Linked DNA regions of Homo sapiens. The protein of the gene in region 1 purifies or fractionates together with the protein of each later gene. This does not show direct contact. Each region holds a gene or a part of one and is shown on either strand. Other genes may lie near its edges. The genes, in order: PTCH1, TMEM132A, TGFBR3, SPPL2B, TMEM131, UGT3A2 and SEMA6A.

The links.
Region 2: the proteins of PTCH1 (region 1) and TMEM132A purify together in Homo sapiens (affinity purification with mass spectrometry; 3 studies listed by BioGRID and IntAct, with this or other methods). This does not show direct contact.
Region 3: the proteins of PTCH1 (region 1) and TGFBR3 purify together in Homo sapiens (affinity purification with mass spectrometry; 3 studies listed by BioGRID and IntAct, with this or other methods). This does not show direct contact.
Region 4: the proteins of PTCH1 (region 1) and SPPL2B purify together in Homo sapiens (affinity purification with mass spectrometry; 3 studies listed by BioGRID and IntAct, with this or other methods). This does not show direct contact.
Region 5: the proteins of PTCH1 (region 1) and TMEM131 purify together in Homo sapiens (affinity purification with mass spectrometry; 3 studies listed by BioGRID and IntAct, with this or other methods). This does not show direct contact.
Region 6: the proteins of PTCH1 (region 1) and UGT3A2 purify together in Homo sapiens (affinity purification with mass spectrometry; 3 studies listed by BioGRID and IntAct, with this or other methods). This does not show direct contact.
Region 7: the proteins of PTCH1 (region 1) and SEMA6A purify together in Homo sapiens (affinity purification with mass spectrometry; 3 studies listed by BioGRID and IntAct, with this or other methods). This does not show direct contact.

Annotation. Positions count from the first base shown.
Region 1 is NC_000009.12:95,499,267-95,502,766, forward strand, and holds part of PTCH1 (protein patched homolog 1), read right to left. Parts: intron 1-3,500.
Region 2 is NC_000011.10:60,930,960-60,934,459, reverse strand, and holds part of TMEM132A (transmembrane protein 132A isoform b precursor), read right to left. Parts: intron 2,775-3,500; coding exon of another isoform or gene 2,772-2,774; coding exon 2,576-2,771; intron 2,477-2,575; coding exon 2,333-2,476; intron 919-2,332; coding exon 716-918; intron 1-715. UniProt on the Homo sapiens protein: May play a role in embryonic and postnatal development of the brain. Increased resistance to cell death induced by serum starvation in cultured cells. Regulates cAMP-induced GFAP gene expression via STAT3 phosphorylation.
Region 3 is NC_000001.11:91,718,652-91,722,151, forward strand, and holds part of TGFBR3 (transforming growth factor beta receptor type 3 isoform a precursor), read right to left. Parts: intron 3,494-3,500; coding exon 3,304-3,493; intron 1,580-3,303; coding exon 1,242-1,579; intron 814-1,241; coding exon 661-813; intron 1-660. UniProt on the Homo sapiens protein: Cell surface receptor that regulates diverse cellular processes including cell proliferation, differentiation, migration, and apoptosis.
Region 4 is NC_000019.10:2,342,184-2,345,683, forward strand, and holds part of SPPL2B (signal peptide peptidase-like 2B isoform 2 precursor), read left to right. Parts: intron 1-1,027; coding exon 1,028-1,109; intron 1,110-1,781; coding exon 1,782-1,856; intron 1,857-2,178; coding exon 2,179-2,241; intron 2,242-2,369; coding exon 2,370-2,469; intron 2,470-3,069; coding exon 3,070-3,147; intron 3,148-3,500. UniProt on the Homo sapiens protein: Intramembrane-cleaving aspartic protease (I-CLiP) that cleaves type II membrane signal peptides in the hydrophobic plane of the membrane. Functions in ITM2B and TNF processing.
Region 5 is NC_000002.12:97,814,449-97,817,948, reverse strand, and holds part of TMEM131 (transmembrane protein 131 precursor), read left to right. Parts: intron 1-2,641; coding exon 2,642-2,750; intron 2,751-3,500.
Region 6 is NC_000005.10:36,064,083-36,068,078, reverse strand, and holds the start of UGT3A2 (UDP-glucuronosyltransferase 3A2 isoform 1 precursor), read left to right. Parts: upstream 1-1,196; 5' UTR 1,197-1,289; coding exon 1,290-1,383; intron 1,384-3,728; coding exon 3,729-3,830; intron 3,831-3,996. UniProt on the Homo sapiens protein: UDP-glucuronosyltransferases catalyze phase II biotransformation reactions in which lipophilic substrates are conjugated with glucuronic acid to increase water solubility and enhance excretion.
Region 7 is NC_000005.10:116,564,824-116,568,323, forward strand, and holds part of SEMA6A (semaphorin-6A isoform 2 precursor), read right to left. Parts: intron 1-3,500. UniProt on the Homo sapiens protein: Cell surface receptor for PLXNA2 that plays an important role in cell-cell signaling. Required for normal granule cell migration in the developing cerebellum.

The DNA.
Region 1 (3,500 bases):
GGTCTTGGAACCAACCCTAACCAAAATAAGAATGCCAAGGATGCAAATGGCAGCTCTGTATCTAGTATCTCCCACAGCTGGCTTGAAATAATAAATGTTCTCATTCCCTCCTCTTAGGTTGTGATTAGCCAGACTTACTACCATTTCAGAGTTCACACTAGTAACTGCAGAGATCCACTTGGAAGGAAATGACGTGGGCAGGTTAGAGTGGGTGGGCGGGAGAAGGGGCAGGAGGGAAGGGGGCAGGGGAGAGAGGGAGGAGGCAGCAGAGGTTCTGGGAGCCAGCGAGGGGCACAGGAAACATTAATAGTATTATAATAGGATGACACAGCCATGGTTATTATGTGGGGGTGTCTGACATAGCTGAAATTCCCTCAACTTTTTCTCCCCCTAAATAGTGTCAAAAGAGTGCCAGAAGTTAAAATACTACATTTATGCAAAGTGGCTTCTATTAAATCTGGTCCCCTTTACAGTTATTTTATAATATTTCCATATTTGTTTTAAAAGCCAAAAAACCTTTTACAGTGAAACACATCCCCGAGGAGAACTGAACACTCATCAGGGGCTAAATCTGGGCAGATAGCTGGCATGGTGAGGCAGAAGGCGGCCACCAAAGCGCCCCTTTCTCCGCCCAATTGTGACTCTCCCCTACCCCAATACAAGCAGGAGAACAGGGCAGACGAGTTTCAGCTTGCCCGAGTTTCAGCTTGCCCGAGTGGACAGAGCCCAGGGTCACAGGCAGGTCAGCTTTGAAGGAGAAACTCAAATGAAACATAAACATGGCATTGTGGAAACCAGACAAATCTCCCATGGCTTGTCCAGCCAGCATTAATCTCGGCATCAGCTGTGGTGCATAATCTAAACACACGGATCAGGCTGTTCATACATCTGGAAGCTGTCATCTTCTGGAACCTCTGAGCGGCATCCTATGTATCTGAAACACCCCATTACCCAACCTGTCCTCTCAACTTGGTGAAGGGTCAAGAATGGCAGACAGCAAAGAGATAGGGAGGATTCGCAGGGTCAACTGCCCTGTGTAGAAGACACCTGAGGGCTATTTGTTCTTTTTTAAACAATCATTGGTGGCTTCTCATTTCCAATCGTTTTTCTCCAAATATGAAAGAAATATCACAACTGCTTCCACCTAAATGTGCATACCCAGTAGTAGAAACTAATAAATACCTATAAACATATTCTCCCTTCTAAACCATGTATGGGGGTCCAGGGAGCAGAAAGGAGCTGCATTTTTCTTCCTGTCCCTTGTGAAATGCCCCCACAATGGCAACCCCAGAGAAAAGAAACCAGGTGCTCACTGTGGAAGGGCAGTGACAGCAGAATCCATTCTGCCCTTCTGGCTGGGACTGGTCCCTTGCTGTCCCTTGGTTCTGCTCCACAAGGGCTCCTGGGGGGACAAGGGGGAGTGGTTTGTGACAGAAACATCTGGAGGAGAATGAGACCACCAAGGAGTTCACACACTAGCCGGGCTTCTGAAGGAGCTGTTATTTCAATATGCACAAAGGCAGTGGTGTCTTCTATTAAAGCTTTTCAGAAAGTCAACCATGCTAAAAACCTTCAGGCTACTGGGGTTGAGGTGCAACCAGTCTTTCTGCAAATTTAGATACCCCCCACCAAAAGGTACCCAAATATAAATTATTTCTTTCTTCCATGGCCTCTTTCCTCTTTCGACCCATCACGGTGTTTTTCTTTGACATTTAATGTCATTCTAAGAAAAATAGTTATCTGGGTCTATAAATACAGGAATGGGATGGGGGAGTTATCTTAAAGAAGATTAATACTCTTGCATCTCTGCAATGCATTGTAGCCACAACTCCATCATAATAAACGTCTTCCATCTGCACAGCATGAGTCTTCCAATCAAAATCTTTTTATCATCTAAACCAGTGGGTCTCAATCGTGATGATTTGGGACACCCTCTCCCCCAGTGACATCTGGCAATGACTGGAAACATTCTGGTTGTCACAACTGGGAGGGTGCTACTGGCATCTAGTAGGTAGAAACCAGGATGCTGCTAAACATCTTATAGTGCACAGAACAGCCCCCAACAACAGAGGATGATCCAGCCCCAATGTCAATAGTCCTGAGGTTGAGGGACCTTGCTCCAAATTGAAGGAGTGGTGAAACTCAGTTATCTCCTACAACTGATTGCCTGAGTTCAAGAACACTGAAAGCATTAACACTAGCAAGGTACAAACTTGAAAGCACTTACACATACCAAGCATGTATTTTAAAAAACAATTTCTTCTATTTTTCTTAAAAAAAAAAAAAAGTCAAAGTCACAACTTGCCTCCTTCTTCCTTGACGCTGGCCTGCAGCAATGTTAACATCCAAACACCAAAGCAATATGGATTCATTACAAGGCTGCTGCCCTCTGCAGAAAAGGAGGCCAGGAGCTGGGCAAGCTTTTAGAAAAAACAAAAAGCTCAAAGAAATAAATGAATGTTCTATCGCTGGAGAAGCTTGACAAGAAACTTGTTCTGAGGGAGGGCTGCAGTGAGGGGGCTGATATGAAAAGAAATAGATACTGAGGGAGATGGGTTAAAACTGCTTAACAAAAAGGAAATACCAACAAAGAAACAGGCAAGATTAAAAATAACACCAGTCTGTGCCCAGAAAGGTGAGATCCAGGTGAAGCATTCGTGGCTCCAGGGAAAACACTAGAGGCCAACACGTGAGCACACTCGTGAGACAGGGATGGCTAGTAGGAAGAGCTGACAGCCCCCAGCCAAGCAGGGAGACTTCTGTGAAATGGCCCTGAGGGACGAGCCCAGCTTCCAGGCTCCCACCCAACCTCAACGACCCACAAAGGGAGGCTGCCCTCCAGGAGGCCACATTCCTGTTCTCTGAGCCTTTGCCTATGCTGTTCCTTCTGCCCTGAATGCCCCCTACCCTCTCCCCTCCAGCCCCTGTGCCTAGCTCAGGCCTCCACCCTTGAGGCCATCCTGGAAGATGTCCCCGATTTTCCTGCCATCTTGGCACTGCTGTCCTTCATGTTAACTACCCACACACCAGTCCGTGTACCTGCTGAATGTTTGGATGGAGTTCCCCTGAGGGCAGAGACTGTGGCTTTTCACCAACATCTCTCTGGAGAGCTTTCTGCAATGGTGGTGCAGAGTAGGTACTGAGAACATGTGCAGAATGAACGCTTCTATTTTTATACAATGACAATTAGTTTCTCCCCCACCTTGCTGCCATGGTCATGTGTTTCTGCAACAGCAGATGTCCACTACATCAGTCAACATATTCTCTATCAAACCTCATTACTCCGCACATATGTGAAACTGATTTGACAATTTTGATTAGCAAACACTATAACCCTAAAACTCAAGCTGGTATCTTAACATATAATTGACAGTTTATTAAAAGGCAATCATTATATGGACATTTTAACAACAGAATACAATAATTCTTATCACCAATTCCTACACACGCACACACACGCGCATGCACACACACGGACTCTTTCTCATCTAGCATATATT
Region 2 (3,500 bases), on another chromosome or scaffold:
GTCAGCGCTGAGCGGCCCCAGCCTGCCCAGGGCCCAGCTGCTGGAGACCCGCAGCTCGTCCCCGGCGGCTCCTAATCACCAGCAGCTCCTGTTTCTCAAACGCAGACATCCGCCCCTCTTGGGGTCAGGCCCTTCCACCTGCAGGCGAGCCGCCCCAGCCCACTCCCGACTGGCGCTGTGCCTCGATCACCGCTCTTGCTCCCAAGTGGACCGCAGGGGAGACGCTCTCTTACGGGGACCCTGGGGGCGCTCACTCTCTGAAGGGCCTGGAAGCTAGATTCCAGAGGCGTGGGCCACCTCTCCCTGGGTTTTGGGGAGCCCCCTCCGAGGGTGTTCATTTCCTGAGCTCTGTGTCATCTTAGGCTCTGAGGGTACGACCAGCATAGACAGACCGCAGCTTCAAGGGGCTGACATTCTCGGGGGAGGAGCGTGGAAAGGATGGACAGGCAACATTAACCAGTACTGACGTAGATTAGGAAGTGGAGGGTGCTACGGGAGAAGTGAGGCAGGGAAGGAGGAGAGGGATGCGGAAGTCAGCAATTTCACAGAAAGCGATCATTGGCTGGGCGGCCCAGGGTGGAGGTGGGCAGAAGGAACTGCAAGCAACAGGGCAGTTTTTCTGACCCCGACTTGGGCCCATGGCTGTGTCCCCTGCGCCCTCTCCGTCCCAGTGTGACTCGCCAAGGCCTGCCAGCTTCCTCAGGCCTCCACTCACCCTTCAGCAGGGCCAGGTACCCTCCAGCCGCGGACCTGCTCGAGGGTGGTGTCGGTGAGCTCGATACGCAGCGGTAGCAGGGGGGCCCACACGGTCAGCCGCAGCGAGGCGCGGAGCCGGCGCCACCAGAAGTCCACTCGCACCCCCCGGGCGCCCCGGCTCTCCTTGCCAGCCACGAACACGGCATCACAGGCCTCAGACACCTATGGAAGGGCAGAGGGCAGGTGGGCGGGCTAAGCCACTAAAGACAGGTGTGAGGCTGGGCCGGGTGGGTGGCTCATGCCTGTAGTCCCAGCACTCTGAGAGGCCGAGGTGGGTGGATCGCTTGAGTCCAGGAGTTTGAGACCAGCCTGGGCAACATGGCAAAACTCCCTCTCTACAAAAAATACAATAAATCAGCCGGGTGTGGTGGCACATGCCTGTAGTCCTAGCTACTGGGGAGGCTGAGGTGGGAGGATCCCTTGAGCCTGGGTAGCTGAGACTGCAGTGAGCCGGACTGTACCATTGCACTCCAGCCTGGGGACAGAGTGAGACTCTGTTTCAAAATAAATAGATTAAAAAAAAAAAAAAGGCATGGGCCAGAAGAGAGCAGCCCTGACCTCAGGCCGTAGGACGGGCTCCCACTGAGTTCAGCTCTGTGTGTCACTGGAATGCATGTTGCAGCAGGATTGTTGGTTAAGCCCCTGTTCTTTGTTTAAGATTTTACTGTAGGGGCCATTCCTTGAGGTTCCCTGGGGCTCAGTCAGGGGAACTGGCCATTGCATACCAGTCTTCCTCCTGGCAGAGCAGGGGTGTGAACCCAAAACTTTGGCTCCTTATTCATGCTGGCCTTTGACATTGCTCTTGGAGCCACCTGGCAACCAGCTACAGCCAGGTAGGCAGAGGTGGGACAAAGCAGATCTCCCACCAAGGCCCTCCAGCAGGAACCACACACATTTGAGCAAAGGACCACAAGTGGGGAAAGGCACCTTCCCCCTTCAGGTGGCTGGGATTTGCATACATGCAGACTCCATGCTTCCCCTCTTAGAACTTCAAGATAGAGGAAGTTGCTCTACCACCCTCCCTTTTATTTCACTTCACAATCACCGGTAATAATAATAATAATAATTTTTACCATTGTATAATTATTACATCATATTATAACAGCAATAACTGCCATTGTTTCAGCCCCTGCTATCTGCTAAATACTGTCTTAAAGTGCTTTTAATTCTTACAACAACCCGAAGATATGTTCTCATTTTAAAGTTTAGGTAACGAGGCTCAGAGAGGTTAAGAGACCAGCCCATGATCACAAAGCTGGTTGACAACAAAGATGTGTTTCAAACTAAAACTTTCTGATCCCAGAGTATGTGCTCTCGACTCTCTCAGGCCAGCGCACTTGCCAGTGCAATAATGAGCGTGAAAGTGTCTAAGGTCGGGGGGCTGTTAGGGTTACTTGACTCGGGAGAGAGGTGGCTGGAACAAAAGAAGTTGAAGCTGTGGTTCCTCCCATGAGGTTTCTCGTCTCAAGAAGAAGCTGTTCTCTTGGGGACCCACATGAGGAAGGAGGAAAGGTGTGTGTGCGTAACTGTGCCCACACAAATGCAGACTCACATGAGCTGGGCACCTGCCACTCACCTGCAGGACCTGTGTGTTGGCAGACTCGCAGCCGACATGCTCTGTCACCTCCACCAAGGCCCCCCCGCCGTCCACAGTGACAAGGCGCACGGGGACATGCTGGGGCACTCCAGTCAGTGGTGCTGTATTCACCAGCTCCTCAGCCTGGGGGTGGAGGAGGGGCTCAGCCCCAGGCCCCTCAGCTCATGGGGCTCCTGGGACTTGGCCTCCAGCCTTCCCAGGCAGAGATGGAGGTCTCCTTACCTTGGCCAGTGGGATAAGGGCTCTGATGTCCCGCTCAGACACCAGGATTTCCCACACCATTTTGTCCTTCTCTGCTTCAGGGGCCTGGCCTGGGTACTCCAGCTGCCACGTGACGGGGCGAGTGACCGCTACGCCCCCACCAGTGCTATTCTCCACCACAAAGTCCACCCATAGGAACTCAGACAGTTCAAGGGGACTGCTGGCCAAAGGAGACAGAGAAGCCAAATGCTTGCTAGCTGCCAGGCATGGCCTCAGCACTTCCTGCATTCATGATTATCCCCATTTTACACAGGAGGAAACTGAGGCACAGAGGTTACATAGCTCACTTAAGACCACACAGCAAAAAGTAGCGGGGCTGGGATCTAAACCCAAGCATCCTCGCTCTAGACCCCAAACTCTGACCCACTCTTGGCCTCTCTAAGATCCATGAAGCCATTTAACCACCTCCCACCTGGCAAGGTGGCTCACTCCCCTGCCTGCCCGGGCCCGCTTCCCCCAGACTTCCGCTTTCCACAGCCACTGAGGTGGCATGCGGGAGATTCACTTCCAGGTCCCAGGACCAGACACTTGACCCTCTGAATGATAAGCTTCCTTTGATCAAACAAAAACCTATGTGCTGGGAACCGTCCTGGGTGCCTGATATGTAGCACTGTATTTTATTTTCAAAAATGCTAAGGGATGCATTATTATTCCTATTTCACAAGTGAAGAAACTGAGGCTTGGGTAGGGGAATGTTAACTGGCTTGCCCAAGGTTTTGCCCATCCCAAAAGCATCAGAACCAGAATTCGAACTGGGGCTACTGAGTCCATGGCCTTGACCCAGGCTCAGGGCATGAATAAGAAGAGTTCACAACCGCAGAACTGCAGCTGGGCTTTTTGGGGGAATGTGAACGGCCCAGAGAAAGGATCATTTGGTGGAAGCAGG
Region 3 (3,500 bases), on another chromosome or scaffold:
AAAGATTTTGACCAACTGAGAAGAAAGATTTCTGGAAAATGCAGCTTAGCTATTGCAACGGTTTATCATTGGGGGAAATCTGTGGAATCTTTCTCCAAGTAACTTCAAAAGTAGGAGAGTTTCTTCAATGTATGGTCTTTCTTAGAGGTGGAGAGAGACTTAATAATTCCTTAAAGGTCCTTTTTGAGTTTTAAATTCTCTTTTTGGATTTTTATTCATGAAGGAGGGAGAAGTTCTCCTACTTCTGGACGAGACTCAAATGAGGCCAGAGAGACCACACATCTGGTTAACCCGGCTGTGCAGAGGTGCTGCTCGTTCATATAGCCCAGGGCCTTAAAATTTTATCCTTATAAGGGCCAGTTGAGCTTGGGCACTGAGAGAAGTCATAATCACCTTGACAGTGCAGCCTTTGTCATCAGGAGACGGAAACGGGGGGTGAGAAAACAGGCCTTCCAATTCCCAAAGACTCACCAATAAAACAAATAAAACCAAAGAGCTCAGGGTCAAAGTACATCCATTTTGTTGAGAACTGACACTTGGCTTTCTTCAGGCCTGGGGTGAAAACCCTCTTCATCTTCAAAGAAATGTTAAGACTAACTTTAAGGGAGCACACAGCCAGGCTCTGGCAAAGGGCAAAGCTTTGTTCTGGAAAACACTCACGGAGTTATAGTAGACCACACCATCAAGGGCTGACCACCGGGGCCGAGTACCGCAGCCATTCAGAGGAGACTCCAAAACAAAGTGTGTGCCATTCATCTTGGCCTTGCAGGTAGGATCCAACAGGGTGACGTCCATCCCCGAGTAGCCACTGGCCTAAAACAACAACCACCAAAGACATGGTTGGAGGCCCACAGGCAGTTCTGTTGTATAATTGACACAATTGACAATTGCCTGGTCTTCCAAGGACAGGCGATGAGAGGCCTGCATCGTGCCCCTTCCCCAAGTATCTCTTCCCAGCTGCCCACCTCTCAACAGCTCAAGGGTAGTATCTGTTGGCCTTGGAAATTCAATAGCAAAATATTGACACACAAGGATCTGGAACCCCCACCCCCTGTCACTGAGAACAACAGGAACCAGGTGAGAATCACAGCCAAGGGGAAGTAGGCCCATCCAACTGAGAAAACAGTATCAAGCCTCCGGAGTTCAAAAATGAAAGAGATAGGGAGAAATTACAGATGCAGACTAGGGCCAGATGGGAAAGGAGGTAGCCTCTCTTCCCTCCTGTAATCAGCTGCACCGACCTGAAAAGAATCTTTTTCTACAGCCACGATCATCTTCTCATTGTCACATTTGACAGACAGGGCAATATCCACGCTCCCTTGCACCTCTTCTGGCTCTCTGAGACCAGGAAACAGTTGTATGCTGGGAATGACAGGGTCCTTTGGCCGAGGGAGCCCATCTTCTCCCTCTTCATTCCAGACTCTCCTGGAAATATCTGGGAAAGGAAACGGAAGGCCTCCATTTTGGCCTTCCCCTCCCCGGATGGGCGGGTTCTGCAGGGCAGGCAGGGCACCAGGGTCCAGCAGGATCCGTAGCTCAGGAGGAATAGTGTGGACTTCCTCATCTCCCATCTCCTCTGCTGGTGAAAGAAGAAGGCAAAACATCAGCAGTGTTTGATGCCAGGCCACAACCAACATCATTACAGGCAGAACAGGAGGAATTAGCATAGAATGGGCAGGTGTAAAATGACTTTTAATAAGCAGTGCATAAAGGTCATTAGAAGTCTAGAAGCCTGAATTCTAGTCCTGGTGTTCTCTCTAACTAGCTCAGTGGCTTTAGGCAAGCGGCTTGCTTCTCTGTGCCTCAAATTTGCTTTTCCAATTTTTTAAATTAAGTGGTTGGAAATGATCAGTGGTTCTTAACTTTGGCTACACATGAAAATCACTTGGGAGCTTTAAAAAATATTCCTACGCCCAGGTTGTACCCCAAACAATTTAAACTCAGACTCTCTGGGGTGGTACCCAATCATTAATATGTTTTAGTCTCTCCATGTGTAACTGCAATGTGCACCTAAGACTGAGAACCAATGGAACAGACAGTTTCTAAGGCTGTCCAAGCTAGAAAAATCTGTGATTTAAGTTACATGATGCAATATTATTCCATTGAAATGCCACTAAAATACTTTCCTTGAATCAAGAGAGTCTTTTGAATAATTTCTCTAATGATGTCTTGAAACAATATTGGTATGTTAAAATTACTTCACCACCTTCTTTTTGACAGCTAAATTTTAACAGGTATCTGGGCACCTTGGCCTTTTGGAACATATTCCCTTGAAAGATAAGAAATAGCTGCATAGATACATTTATTCCTTCAAAGGGAGAGACGTATTTCCATACAATCAATACTCAATATTTTGTCGTATTTCTAACAACTAAAAAAATAATAATTTCCCCAGTATTCTTTATATCTACTATCTAAGGCCAACTGATGTACACTTGAGGTCAAATCCATCTCAGTGGAAGCTGGAAGTGAAGATGATAGTTGGACATTATCTCTCCTTTAATAATATTCTTTGGAAAGGACGCTAGAGCTGTAAGGGTCCAAAATAAGTCATAGCTTTGTAGGGTTTTTAATTTGTACTTTCACGAAAACCTTCACAACAACCCTGTAAGGTCTGTCCTATTATTTTCCCCTTATTACTGAAGAAAAATCTGTGGCTCAGAGGTGAAGCAACTTCTCCCCAAACAGTGACTAAATGGTAGAGCTGGGGCTTGAACCTGTACTCCTAATCCTTATTCTATTGGCATTTCACTCAGTGGTGGTACCATGAGCTGAGGAACAGGTCTAGGGATCACAAAACTAGGGTTTCAAGTCATGCTAGCTAGAAGACTCCAGAAAACCTCAAGAATTTGTTGACCCTCTGCTTTCCACCCCATTCAGCTGGGGTAGTAACTCCTGCCATCCTCTGGGTATGAACACTCAAGTATGAGTCCTCGTGACTATTTTCCTAAAAGATACAGCCTTTTACCATGAACTTCTTTCCTGCAGTCTTAACTCTTCTGTATTCTCAGCCATAAGTGGTCATTAGGTGTCTCGGAGAGAAGAACCTAATGTAATCACACTAAAGATAACCTATAACAAAGTTCTCTGAATATGCATTCAACTCTATGTCACTGAAAATCTGTATTACAGTTTCCTCAAAATCTCTGTCTAGGTAATTTTAAGCCTTCTGATAAAAAGTAGTCAAATTATTAAAATGTACAAGAGAAAAACAGCAACATATAAGCTGAAATGACAGTTCCTCACTGGAAAAGCTTCATTTGGGGGGTATTTTTTACATAACTTAAAAAACTTCTAACTTACCATTATTTTCAAGCCGAAGATGAAATCTATTAGCCACAGGAGCCATTGTGTATGAAGTTATTGGACTATAGCCATTGTCCAAAGCCCACTTCACCAGATTCCCTTGGGTTGAAGGAATGTCATCTCTTATTGATTTGGTCATTGTCATAGATCTTTCACTCTCTTTTCCAAAGCCAATACTGTTAGGAGCCTGAAGA
Region 4 (3,500 bases), on another chromosome or scaffold:
GACTCTGGGGCTTCGTGGGGCCAGGAGAGAGCCGAAGTTGCGGCTGGCTGCAGGGGCCGTGGCCTTGTGCAGGAGGCAGTTCTGTGCTTTGCCCCAGGGCACCAACCGCATGGCAGCCCCACCCACTGTGGACCCAGAGGTTCTTTGAGGAAACCTGGTGTGGCACAAGTTTTAATTTAATAAACAGTTTGGGCACGGGGGCTCATGCCTGTAATCCCAGCACTTTGGGAGGTGAGGCGGGCAGATCACTTGAGGTCAGGAGTTTGAGACCAGCCTGGCCAACATGACAAAACCCCATCTCTACTAAAAATACAAAAAAATTTGCCTGGCATTGTGGTGTGTGCCTGTAATCCCAGCTACTTGGGAGGCTGAGGCAGGAGAATTGCTTGAACCTGGGAGGTGGAGGTTGCAGCGAGTCAAGATCGTGCCACCAAACTCCAGCCTGGGTGACAGAGTGAGACTCCATCTCAAAAACAAAATAAAAACAGTTTGGAGGGGTCAGTGCCCAAGCCCTCCTGCGCACGCACCCTCTGCCTGGCCCCTGCCTACAGCCTGTGACCCCTGCCTACAGCGTGACGCCCACCATCCGGGGACAGTGACTGAGGGGACGCAGCCGGCCAGGCCCGTGTCCACCATCCTGGCCCCACCATCCGGGGACAGCGACTGAGGGGACGCAGCCGGCCAGGCCCGTGTCCACCGTCCTGGCCCCACCATCTGGGGACAGCGACCGAGGAGACGCAGCCGGCCAGGCCTGTGTCCACTGTCCTGGCTGCCGAGTGGTGGGCTCCTCTACCTGCTTCCGCAGGGTGGGCCCTGGGGTGGGGCCTGTGCCGCCAGCCCTGCTGGAGTTGTAACAGCAGGGGTCCTCCCACAGGTCTGGGGTCCTCAGAGTCATCCCCTGGGCAGGTGGAAGGGCAGTGGGGCTGCGTGCTGGCTGAGAGCAAGGGCCCTGTGTGGCTCGTGGGAGGCGGCGTCCTGGGTGGTCAGCCAGCCTCTGCCCCGGCGAGGATGCTGCTTTGTCTTGCAGGTGGGCCTGGGTCCTCCAGGATGCCCTGGGCATCGCCTTCTGCCTCTACATGCTGAAGACCATCCGTCTGCCCACCTTCAAGGTGAGTGCAGGGAGGGCACGGCTGCGGGGCAGCATGGGTAGTGGGGGCCCTTCATCCTAGCCTGGCCCGTGTGGGGCTGTGGTCCTTGCAGGTCTGTGCTCCTGCTCACTGCCCTGGGGATGGCCGCCTAGGCCTGTTGTGAAGGGTGGGGCTTGAAGATTGGGTCCCAAAGCCCCCGCTGAGGCGGCCTGGGTGGGTGGCTGCGGGGCGGTTCCCGGCAGGGGCAACTCATGTCTAGATGAGGTGGTGGTGAGAGTGGTTGAATAGGGCTGGAGGAACTGGCCTCAGGTGGTACCGGGAGTGCGGGGATGTTGTCAAGCCCCAGGCGGCTGCACTCCCGTGAGGGCCCCACAGCACCCCAAGCAAGCGGCATTTGAATGCCCAGGATGGCCCTCTGTATCCCCAGAGCCGGCCCTGCGTGGCACAGGCCTCCGCCCTCCCGTCCCCGCCTTCCTGTTACGTGGAGACTCTAAAAGCCTGACTTTTGCCCGTAAATCCCTACCTGATGTTGCTTCCAAAGCTCCTCCTGCGTGGTGCGTCCCTGGCACTGGGCACGCTCTGCTCAGGTTCCTTTAAAGGCTGCCTCCCAGGAGGAGGCGCTGGGCCTCATGAGATGGGAGTGGGGGAGGCACGGGCCGGGGTGGGGGCCGCCCTCAGCCGTGGGCTTCGCAGGCCTGCACGCTGCTGCTGCTGGTGCTGTTCCTCTACGACATCTTCTTCGTGTTCATCACGCCCTTCCTGACCAAGGTAGGCGACTGCCTGTCCCTGCTCCACCCCATCACCCCGCTCCCCCGCCCCCTCGCAACCCCCGCCCCATCACCCCCCCCATCACCCCGCCCCCTCGTCCCGCCCCCTCGTCCCCCTCCACCCCACACCGTGCTCCCCTGCCCCCCACCCCATCACCCCGCTCACCTCCACCCCATCACCCTGCTCCCCTGCCCCATCACCCCCCATCACCCTGCCCCTTGCACCCCCCCATCGCATCACCCTGCCCCCTCGCCCCATCACCCCACTCCCCTGCCCCCCCACCCCATCACCACGCTCCCTCACTCAACCCCATTCTGTGCAGAGTGGGAGCAGCATCATGGTGGAGGTGGCCACTGGGCCCTCGGACTCAGCCACCCGTGAGAAGGTGTGTCTTCTGACTGCAGGGTCTCAGGTTGCCATGGGTCAAGGTGTTGCGCGGAGCGGATAGGGCTCGAGGCATCCCGCGGCCGGGTGAGGGTCCTGGAGGACATTGTCCTCTTCCCGTCTTTGCAGCTGCCCATGGTCCTGAAGGTGCCCAGGCTGAACTCCTCACCTCTGGCCCTGTGTGACCGGCCCTTCTCCCTCCTGGGTTTCGGAGACATTTTGGTGCCAGGTACTGAGGCGGGTGGAGCACACGGGTCCACGCTGTGGGGCAGGGCCCCGGGCGGCTGAGGTTTGCCTTTGGGAGTGAGTGGCCCGCACACCGTCGGCTGGAGATAAAGCCCTGAGGGTCAGAGTCGGGCAGGTTGGGGCCGTTGAGGCCTGGGTGCCTGGGCAGCGAGGGCATTGCCTGGGTGGGGTAGGGACCCCCTTTGTTCCTAGGGAGCGGGGAAGGCCCCCCGATTGCAGACAGCCTCACCCCATCCTGCTCGGGGTTGTGCAGGGGTCCTTGCTGGGGCCTGGATCCCGGGTCCCAGTGAGCTCATGTTGCTGCAGAAGGCAGAGACTGTACCCTCGCAGCCTCAGTGTCCCCAGGGTCCTGCCAGGTGTGTCTGCCTGGACTTTGTTCTCACTGTGGTCTCAGTTTACCCACTGAGAGTCATGGCAGCCCTGTCCCGAGCGAGCGTGTGGCCTGTCTGTGAAATGACAGCAGCCACCAGGCAGCGAGAGGCCCACGGCGCCCACAGGTGCTCAGGTGCCCGCCCGCTCCCAGGAAGCCCCTGCTCTGAGGCTCTGCGGGCCCGAGTAAGCCTCCGCCCTGTGCCTCCCCCAGGGCTGCTGGTGGCCTACTGCCACAGGTTTGACATCCAGGTACAGTCCTCCAGGGTATACTTCGTGGCCTGCACCATCGGTAAGTGCCTCGGTTGGGCCCGTGCTGGCCTCTCTGGCTCCAGCCCCACCCCGACTTAGCCTCTGTCCTGACCCTGACCCCTAACCCCAACCCCAACCCTAACCCTAATTCCAACTCTAACACCGTAACCATAACACCCTAACCCTAACCCCCTGGCCACTCCGGGAGCTGGGCTCGGGTGGCTGGGCCTGTGCCTGCATCCCCCTCTTTCTCATTCTCCCCGGGCCTGTGCCTGCAACCCCCTCTTTCTCATTCTTCCTGGGCCTGTGCCTCTGTCCCCATCTTCCTCATTCTTCCTGGGCCCGTGCCTGCATCCCCCTCTTTCTCATTCTCCCCGGGCCTGTGCCTGCAAC
Region 5 (3,500 bases), on another chromosome or scaffold:
TTAAATGAGAATTGAACCTCTGAACAGGGCTTTTTTCATAGGCACCCATGCAACTGAGTAGCTGCTATTAAGCTTAAACTTTGGCTTTATGATAAAGCCATCTGTGCTCAGAGTCCACATAGTAAAGCTCAGCTCCTCATCGGATGAGAATATTTGATCAATGAATGTAGGAGGACACTGGCACACTTCACACAGTGTTTATGAGAGTATCTATGCCTGCTGCTCACTGTGGAGAGTTCTAGGGAGGGTCTGGAGCAGCTACGGAGGTGGGGCTGGCCTCAGGGTTCATCCTGTGAGCTCAGTGAGGACTCTCAAGGAATAAAAATCACATAGGCAGCATACTTCATGATACAGTTGTCAAGAAATAGTATTATAGAAGACATTAATGCCACAGTAATTTCTACATTTGTGGTAAAGTGTTCTCTATGCTGCTGAGAGACCACATTCATGCCTACCAGTGTCAGTATCACGAGGTACATTGTCTTCCCTTACAGAGGAGGAGGCGGCTAATTTTTGTATTTTTAGTAGAGACAGGGTTTCACCATGTTGGCCAGGCTGGTCTCAAACTCCTGACCTCAGGTGATCTGGCTGCCTCAGCCTGGCAAAGTGCTGGGATTACCGACGTGAGGCACTGCACCCAGCCAGGATAAGAGCATTTAGGACCCACCCTTCACAGATGTGCCGGAAAATTCTCCACATGGTCTGCAAGGGTGAAGAGCTGCTCTGCAAGGGTGAAGAGCTACTCTTCTCTAGCTCCTGTATTGACCACCCACTTAATCTTTCCCTTCTTGAGATAAATGCGATGTCATTAGTGTTGGTTCTTCTGAGATCGTAGGCTCTAAGATAATTGTTTCTTAAAGAAATATGTAAAATTAAATAACAACAGCAAAGGGAAAGCATCTTTAAGAGCAAATGCTACATTTCTTAAAAGTAGGTTTTTAATATCATGTGAAAATCCCCCCACCATTCACCTCTCCCACTGCCATGCTGGATCCCCACACAAAATACCTCTGAGATTGCTGTGAAAATCAGTCAGGAAGTGTGTGTTATTTAACTTTTAATATTGTTAGAATGCACCTTATATATGTATTAACTCTGCAGTGTTCATTTATCAAGCATCTTTCTCATCAAAAGTTATTCTTCATGATTTTCAACAGAATTTTCTTGAGCTTTTTGACCACTTTATTTGCTATGTATGATACAATGTCATGAAATGCTTAAATGTGGCCCTTGTAATCAGTCTTACGTCAGAACAAATAGTGAAAAATTGAAAGCATCCAGAGATGGCTAACTAGCAAGCAGAGAAATAAGAGGCTGAATGGGAATTTTTAAAATGGAAAGTCTGTGTCTGCCATAGTCAAACACTAGATGTCATACCATTTCCTTGTTCTTTTTTGTCATGAGGTTGGATGACACACATTTGCGGAACTCACATATGAATTCTTCACATAAATGGAAGTGTTCCTAAAGTACTCTAAGAGGATAAACATAAACAGCTTCTTTATTTGCTTTGAAAAGAACCATCTAATGGGTACCTAGATTGGACCCAACTGAATCAATTTCTGTAATTCCTTATTTATTTATTTATTTTTTAATTTTTGTTTTTTTGGGTCAGAGTCTCGCTTTGTTGCCCAGGCTGGAGTGCAATGGCGCAATCTCGGCTCACTGCAGCCTCCACCTCCCAGGCTCAAGCGATTCTCCTGCCTCAGCCTGCCAACTAGCTGAGATTACAGGCACGTGCCACCACACCTGGCTAGTTTTTGTGTTTTTAGTAGAGACAGGGTTTCACCATGTTGGCCAGGTTTGTCTCGAACTCCTGACCTCAGGTGATCTGGCTGCCTCAGCCTGGCAAAGTGCTGGGATTACCGATGTGAGGCACTGCACCCAGCCAGGATTATTCAAAACTGCTATGAAATCTGAAGTTTTTACTTCATCTAAGATGAGGACAATATAATATGATGACAGGAGGGGATTTATCTCCTCTTATACCATGAGTTTTAGGGTTGGCTGGTTTTTGAGAAGAGCTCTGAATTCTTGACTTTTCTTATACCATGCTACTTTATTGGTGATAGAGCAAGACTTTGGCCATACAAGAAATGTTATTTCTTTCTCAGTTCAAGTGTAAATCAGCAGGGCTAAGTGGGGGGTAATTTTGCCTCCAAGGGGATATCTGGCAATGCAGAGAGGCATTTTGGTAGTCACAGCTGCAGGGATGCTACTGCCGTCTAGCAAGTAGAGGTCCGGGATGCTGCTAAACATCCTACAGTACACACAACAGCCTCCGCAACGAAGAATTAATCTGGCCTAAAATGTTAACAGTGCCAAGGATGAGAAATTCTGCTGTAAGTAAAGCCAAAGCCTGTGGCTACAGCAAAGCAGCTTAGGTACAGTGTTTTACCTCCTGAACCATGCTCACCAGCTAATTCCTTATCTGCTTATCTTATTACAGGAAATATAAAACATTTTCCCCCTTTTGTATGAAAAATGTGATGTTTCATTTAAAATGTTATAAAAAGTGTTCTGTTGGCCAATTTGGAAGCTCAACTTTTTTTTTTTTTAAGATTTTGTCAATTTACATAAATTCACTAATTCTCTTTGGTAGTAAAAGGTAACAGAGATTATTTTTTATGCTTCCTTTCAGCATCGAAGGCAAAAAAGCCATCTCAGTTTTCTGGGAAAATAACAGTTAAAGCAAAGGAAAAGAGTTATTCTAAACTTGAAATACCATATCAAGCAGAAGTTTTAGATGGGTGAGTTTCTTTTTAAAATAAATTCTATTACTTTTTACTAATCAGTAAATTATATTTTCCTGCTAAATGACCTGCAGAAATACTAGCCACGTTCACATAAACTTGATGGAATTATTTTTTGAAAGAACAGCCCCAACTATAAAAGAGAAAACCTCCTATATTTTGTTTATATTTTACTTTTTTAGAAGAAAAGGGTAAGTGGGATGATAGGATTTGGGCTTAAATGAAGACTTAATGATTCAAAAATCTGATTTTTTAAATATTATTTAAATCATTTGAACCATTTCCTTTCTGACATTTGTTTGTAATATGTAAGTGATTGTGGCCTATTATTAAAGTATTTTGACACTCGAAACAGAATTCTTTATATTCCTTTATAAATTCATAAACACTTCTAGAATTACAACTTTTTATAAATGGGAAGTGACATGTTCATTTTCTATTGTACTTTAACCAATAGTAGTTTAATACTCAACTTGGCAAAGATTCATTTTAGCAAAGCTCCTTGTAATTCAGTGATAAGCATGATTTTTTTCAAAGTAAAGCTTTTTTTGTTGATATGTCTTTGATTCTAATTGTATGATTCATATAATTCATTAGAGAATGGTTGTTTGTATTAATTTCAGTATTTTGCAAGCTAAATTTTGTTTTAAATCATATAGTCAATCACTAAAATATTATAGTTCTAAATCTTTAATACAATCCCTAATGCTAAATGTAAATTATTACTTACAACAGAAGAACTTGGAT
Region 6 (3,996 bases), on another chromosome or scaffold:
GAGAGTGCACCACTGCACTCTAGCCTGGGTGACAGAGCGAGACTCTGTCTCAAAAAAAAAAAAAATCTATCAATATAATTGTTGAATAAATAAAAATCTTGGAGTTTGATAACAAATCCTTTATTTTGCTAATGCATTATGAAAAGTACAAGAATAAGACGAACTGGAGCCTTGTGATGTCTGGTAAACCTCGCCCTTCCCACACTTTTCTCTCTCTCTCTCTCTCTCTCTCTCTCTCTCTCTCTCTCTCTCTCTCCTCTTTCTCCACAATAGGCATGGCTAGGTGAGGGATGCACAAATGCATAAGAATGTAATGCTTTAAATTCCAATGAGAAAAAATAACCCCTGTAGACTGAAGAAGGCAGGAATAGAACACGCAGAATTCAAGGACCCACTGCAACCAAGGATTTCTCTGCTTATTTAGAGTTGCACTGAAAGCCTTTCCTAAAGGAAGTCTTAGTTTGAGGATAGAGAGTAAAGGGGACTACCGGACCTGGTGATCCCTGACCTCACTGGGGCTGACATTGCACGGAGGCAGAATTACAAGCTGTCATCAGCATGTGCTCTTGGAAATTATGGAAAGATTCACCAGTCCTATTTCAGGATACTCATTCAGAATGATAGTCTCAGCTTTTGAATTTCAGTCCTCCAGGGACAGACCTGGACTTCCAGAGGTAGGACTCTAGCCTCTTTTCAGGAATGTTACCTTCTAAAGAGACACTAAGAGATAGATTCCAGGGATGGTAGATTGATTTCCCTTGGGGATTCCCTTCCAGGGAGGTCTTGGGCTTGGAACATCAGCTCAAGATTTTAAGCAAGTCTCTCAGGAAATAGATCGCGGGGCTGGCAGTATGAGGTAATAGAGGCAGTTAGAAGGGAACTAGAGTAGGTAAATTCACACAGCCTTTGCAAAAGAGAGGTGGGTCCCATGGAGATAGAGCTTTCATCAGCTCGATTTACTGAGGTCCCTGCCATTCCTCACTCACAGTAAGGATTTTCCAGGCAGGAGGGCTGTGATCACAAGGGCAGAGCAGGGTTAAGTATGGGCTCACCGACCCCTCCTACTGACTGCTGGTAGTTTGGTAGAGCGAGGATAGATTATCCAATGGAGCACGAGGGAGGAGGGGCAGAGGGCAAGAGGGGATGGACAGAAGAGAAGACTGGCAGGATCCTTACTCCTACCTCTACCCACAGCCAGTGCCTTTGGCGCACTGAGGTGCACAGGGTCCCTTAGCCGGGCGCAGGGCGCGCAGCCCAGGCTGAGATCCGCGGCTTCCGTAGAAGTGAGCATGGCTGGGCAGCGAGTGCTTCTTCTAGTGGGCTTCCTTCTCCCTGGGGTCCTGCTCTCAGAGGCTGCCAAAATCCTGACAATATCTACAGTAGGTGAGTGCTTGGCCGGAGAATTCCCAGACAGGCGCGTCCCGGATACTCGCACTGCCAGGGCTCCAGAGAACAGCGCTTGATCAGAGTCATCCACGTGATTTTCCAGGCTGGGCTTGCGGACCCGGCTGGAGGAGGGAGAAGCCCATTCAGCTGTGGGGCAGAGAGGGGCCTCTATTGCTGAGGTGGGGAAGAAAGTTTTGGAGAAAAGAGATTCTCCTTTACTGTCTTCTTCCTGTTCAGGACGCGCCCCCATCCCGCAGGGCTGGGGCCAGAAATTTGAGACTCATCCCAGAGCTTGAGTTCCTGGGCTGCCTTCTCCAGGGCGCAGTGGGACTTTCAGAGGCTCACCTTAAGCTCCGGAGGGTGCGTGTGTGTGGGTGCACAGTAGCTTCCAGTAGAAACAGTGGTGAGCGTTTTCAGGCTCTTGGAGACCAGGGAAAGGCCCTCCTGAGGGCAGCACTGCAAATGTTGTGAAGCTGCATCCGGAGCCAGGGTGGCGCAGGCAGGTATTTCATGGCTGCAATGCCAGTGGAGTGTTTTCCACCAGGGGAAACCTGGAGAACTGCCGAGGGCTGAGGAGAAGATCCAGGTCATTCGCATCTTTTGGAGTATCTTTCCTTTTACCTGTGCCGCTGACCGTTATTTGAGGGATTCATGGGACTGTTAATTCTGCATTTTGGGTCTCAGTTTTACTTCTTTTACTTTTACCCCAAAGGGAATAGAAGATAAAAGAGAAACATATATGAACATAAAGGGATCATCTCAGGATCGAGCTTCCCCAAGACTTTATTTCAACCCATAGTGGGTTCTAATGGATTCCTTTTAGATCATGGAGAATTAGGGCTCGTAGGGCTGGGAAGAACCACAGATCATCTAATTTAGTGCCCATTTTCATTTCCTGAGAGGGCAATTGAAGGATGGGGAGTGAGATGCCTTCCTTAAGAGCACTTGTGGCCTCCCTGATGTCCCATGAGGAATTAACTCAGGGTTTTCTTACTGCAAGACCATGCTCACCACAACTTCCACTCTGAAGCCCTTTTCACTGGGGATTTTCAAAAATCACTGTTTAAGAAACAGTGCAAGTCCATTTGAAGACTTTTTCCCCCTCTTTCTGAGTGTTAGTAGCAGTGAAGCAACAGAGCTTCTTAACTTCTTGAAAGTACACAGCCCTCCTTCCTCAGGCTCCAAGAAGGAGTTGATGTCATTTCTGAGGTGCTAGAATGCTGATTTTTGCCCCAGAAAGCCACCTGACTCCCCAAGATCCACCGCTAACAGCTGTTTCTGTGGGGACCCCTTCTTCCCAGCTCCCTGTTCTTACGTGGATTAAAATGTGAGCAAGACCTGTTGCAGATTTGTACTTTATACGTCCCTTGTTGCTCCAGACTATTCAAGCCTGGGTATAAGTAAACTGAGTCATTCAGAGAGCTGAACACTACTTCTCTACTCCCTTCCACCCCCACCCCGCAGGCTTTTGGTATTTACTATTACATTACCTTCTCTTCTGATCTTCCTTTCTCTGCTGCTGAGAACCTTAGATTCAAGCAAAGGCTGTGTATTAGAACATGTACTGAGAAGACATTGATTTCGTGGAACTTGTACCTCTTTTGAGGATCAAGCTTCTCTTTCCTTAGGATGGATGTTTCTGGAATCAATGATTCCCTAGTCTCTCGTGCAACCAGGATCCAGCAGGCCCACCCCAAGCGCCCCACAGTTGTCCTCAAATGTCTTAATTAGAACTTGATCATTGTGTGGCCTAAATTAAGTACATCCTTTCAAAATACATTGGAATCTTAAGGATTTGGATTCTAAGTAGTGGCCCCTCATTCCTTCTGTTCCAGTGATGATTTCTTGGACCAATCTCTTAAGGTTTCTATCTCCTACAGCAGCAGAAATGTCCAAAGAGCAGGATCCCAGAAACAGCTCTCATTGTTTTTTAGGAACTATTCACACTCATATGTACAACACCATACCTGTATTTCCACCAGTGCCGTGATTTCTTTTGGACTCTGTGTCTCCATAAGGCCTTAGTTAAAATATACATGTACCTCAGGATGAGGAACTCCCATGGCTAAGCACATAGTAGCTCATTACACTGACATGGATACCGTGATTCACAAGAGGCAATCTCTCACGGACCAGAGCCACAGGTAAAAATTTGGGCGGCCATGCTCTGGGTGAGTGGGCTGGGTTTTACCCAGAGGGACATGAGGAGACTGGCAAAACTCATCTTCCTCCAATCACTATCCACTTCTGTTTCCTTACCTTTCCTCTCCTGGATTGATCACTACTGACTTCAGACACTGTATTCTCATCATTCCAGAACTGAAGTTGTGCATTGTTCCTAGGTGGAAGCCATTATCTACTGATGGACCGGGTTTCTCAGATTCTTCAAGATCACGGTCATAATGTCACCATGCTTAACCACAAAAGAGGTCCTTTTATGCCAGGTATCTTTTCTCACTTTTCTTGATTTCTCCTACTCCAAGCAAAGAGCAAAATGCTGTTTGCATAGAAAGGCTTAGCAAAATGTTTTTTAAAAATCTAATTCAATTGGAAGGATGAAAAGCTTGTGTGTGTGTGTATGTAAAGTGCCAAAAAACTTCTTAGTCTCTA
Region 7 (3,500 bases), on another chromosome or scaffold:
AAATACAGTAAAATGGTCTCTAGCTCCTTAGCAATGAGTGTCAAGTGTAAAAAAGGAAAGGTTAAACCTGAAGTAAAGCTCTACATGTTTCCATTGCCAAAATAACACACGGCACACAGCAATCATGATGTCATTTTATTTATTTAGTAATCTGCAAAGCCAAAGCCAAATTATGGAGCAGAAATTTTAAGCAAAGTCATGAATGGCCTCATTTACCTCCACATTTGTGAATAGTCTTAATGAAGAGTTTGCGTCCCTTTGCTTTCTTGTTGAAATATGAAAGTGACATCAGCCTCTGTACTGTATTTTTATTTATTTATTTTTTTTGCCAGCAAGACTGAGCAAGAGGCAAATCCTGGATTAAATACCAGCTGGATGTGCACATAACAAGGTCCAGGGAGACACTCTCAGAAGTTGCCTCTTTTAATCCAACACTGAATTATACGAGAAGCGGTTTTCAGTCTTTCAGAGCACAACTGTCAAAATAACTGCAAGGCTTGCAAGCCCTAGTATATCTCAAACCTTTCCCAAGACACCCCAACACTATGTGAGGCACTGAAACTATGGCAACCGAATAAGAAAGCAGCCTCCATGATTAACAGATGAAGATCCCAGCGACAGTGTCTAGCTAGGGCCATCATTCATGATACAAGAAGAATTAGCACAGAATCCGTCTCGAAAACCATTAACAAGTATTCTTATAAAAATCAACTCCACTGCCATTCTGCCAATATACTTGAGTTTAGAATGCTACAAACAATTTGGTTTCTATTTATCGCTCACTATGCAGGAATGAGAATGTTCTTAGAAACTCAGATGCTCATGTTTTTAAAATAGTGAAAGGCTTAATAGAATGGTTTTCCACCTGGGTATTTTAGGCCTAAGAACAAATACATTGAAAAACCAAAATATGTGAATGAAATCAAGTGGCTCTCTGGGTAGAAAGGAGGAGGGACAGTTGTTGAATTGTTTTGAGTGTTTTTTTGTGGAATGCAATTTTTTGTAAAGCATTCCATTTTCAGGAAAGGAACGTTTCCATTCACCAGCTCAATCAGTATTCTCTCAGTTTCCTCATTCAAGGACAGTAGGAGTCTGGGGGAGGGGCGGGGAAGTGCTGAAGTCGCTGCAATATTAATGAAAAGACTGAATACTTTTCTTTAAAAAACGAATCAGGAATAGGAACAGGGAAAGAAGAATGGATCTATCACAGCTTGTCTGTAAAACCCTCATAGAACATTAAAACATAATTAATACAATCTTTATTTCTTCGTAGTCTCTAACAATGTTTATTTTCCAATGGCATGTTTTCATTGTATTTAATGCCAGATCCTGTTCTGTTCTATAAATGCTTCTAATCAAATCATGGCCAAAGGCTGGTCTTTGAAGCGTAGAGGGGCAGAAGGGCTAAGAAAGGCGTAAACAGCACCAACTTTAGAGCTTCTTCTGCTAAATTTTTTTAATTGGCATGGATTCTTTGAATTTAATGTTCTACAGATGACAATTATAGGTTAGTTGGAAATTCCTAGAAAGCACCTAGGAATATTAAAAGAAAGCTTCAAGTCTAAAGGCTGCATGAGGAAGTATCTATTACTAACAATGCTTTCTAAGCAAAAGTCACCATACTGGCTGCTAAGAAGGATCTGAAACTTCGGTCCTTGCAGCATGTTAATTACTGATTTATCTCACACTCTTTCCATTCTGTTTCCACTTACAGAGTTTGAGAACATTTTATTTCCTAGTTGAAAATAACTGTAACTCTAAGCCATGGAGGCATTCCTGGAAAACATAATGGTAGCAGGGAATTGTGGTGATAACATCAATTTATTTCCCCTTCTGCTGTGCCTTTTAGAAGTCAGATTTTTCTCACTGATAAGAACTTGTATGACTATCATTTGAATCAAATTTCAGGTTTTGTAGTAGTGTGTCTGTCAGCAGAATAACTGCTATCTCTACTGGGGTCAGCCAATTATTTCCTACCTTTGGTGTGGAAGGCAGTAGTTTGCTTTTGCTCCCAAATTGATTTCAAGCTTGGCCAGGGAAGAGTGACCTGGCAGATGCATGCCCAACCTGAAGACCCTCTTGCAGAAGTCCTAGCCACAACCTCCTCAAGGGTTCCAATCAGCAGCCGAGTTTCTCTCCTAAGACAGGTGTGGTCCTTGGGAATTCAACTCATCCCTAAAATTGTCATTATGAGTTGCTTTCAGATTCTAAATGTAGGTGCAGAGTGTACATTTTATTATTAAAATGTTAATAAGTGATAGCTATCATTTTTCAAAAACTATCCCTTGGGCTCCTATTTGATATAAGGCTCTGCTTGTTATTATTATTATTTTTTATATATAGTGGTTTTTTCCTTCCATGTTTTGGGTGTGATATTTCAAATTCCAAAGTTTCCCTGTTTCCTGTTTCCCTGCAAGTGATGTATTCACATGCTTCTCAACTTAAAACCCATGACATTATGGCCTGTTTATGGTATGAATGTTTGTTTCTAGTCCAAAGGTTGTTTTCTTTTGCATCATCTCTTTATATTACAGATTCGTAGCCATTTCCTTTTCTACTATTTCCCCTGCCCCCCAGAATAAAAGTACTATCTGCTTTTTCAAAATCCATTCCTAGGACATTTTTCGTAACTACTGTTACTCAAGTAAAAATAATACCTTATGTTGAATGACTGCTTGTTGTGTGCCCGGCATTGTGACATGCATTTTACAGATGTTAGCACATTTATTCTTCTCAAAACCATAACATTATCATCATACTAGCACTTTGCAAATGAAAACTGAAGGAGAAAGGAAACTGGCATAAAGTCACACTGTTGGTAAATGGCAAAACAAATCCACGTGCATTGTCTGTCAAAAAAGCATGACCTCCGCAATGCCTCTAGAGTTGTCCACTACCTTCCCTCCAACGGTCCCTTCACATTTATTAACCTCACGCCACAAGATCTAACGAATTCGGCCTTGTTATGACAAAGATGGAAACTTCTACTAGTCCTGGTTCACCCTGACATATTAATCGTTACACTGATTTGAACTATTTCAGAATTTAACTGAGCAAAAACAATTATCTTACTTTTAAACTAATTCCTGGCAGAATGGTACTCCTATGACCTTGCCTGATTTAATGATAATGTTGAAAGCAATGTTTCCTTGACATGGTAGGTGTTCTAATTAATAAAGTTGCTATCCATGCTCTAGGTGAACTGTACAATTTCAATGAATTTGAACATATTATTTAGTTGCATAATGTGATTTACATTAAAACTACATGAACAGTGTATATTCTACCAAAAATAATTTAGAAGATGAAGTAGGATCTCTGTTATATCCAGGGTCCAGAGTGGGAAAGAGGGGGTTAACATCAAACTTCCCAAATTTCCACAATGCGTGTAATATTTCACTAAATACATTCACATTCATGATTTCGTATTATTTTCCCAGTAATCCTATAAGTTAGGAAGAATAGGTTTACTATTTATAATTTTCAATTAAAATAATGCA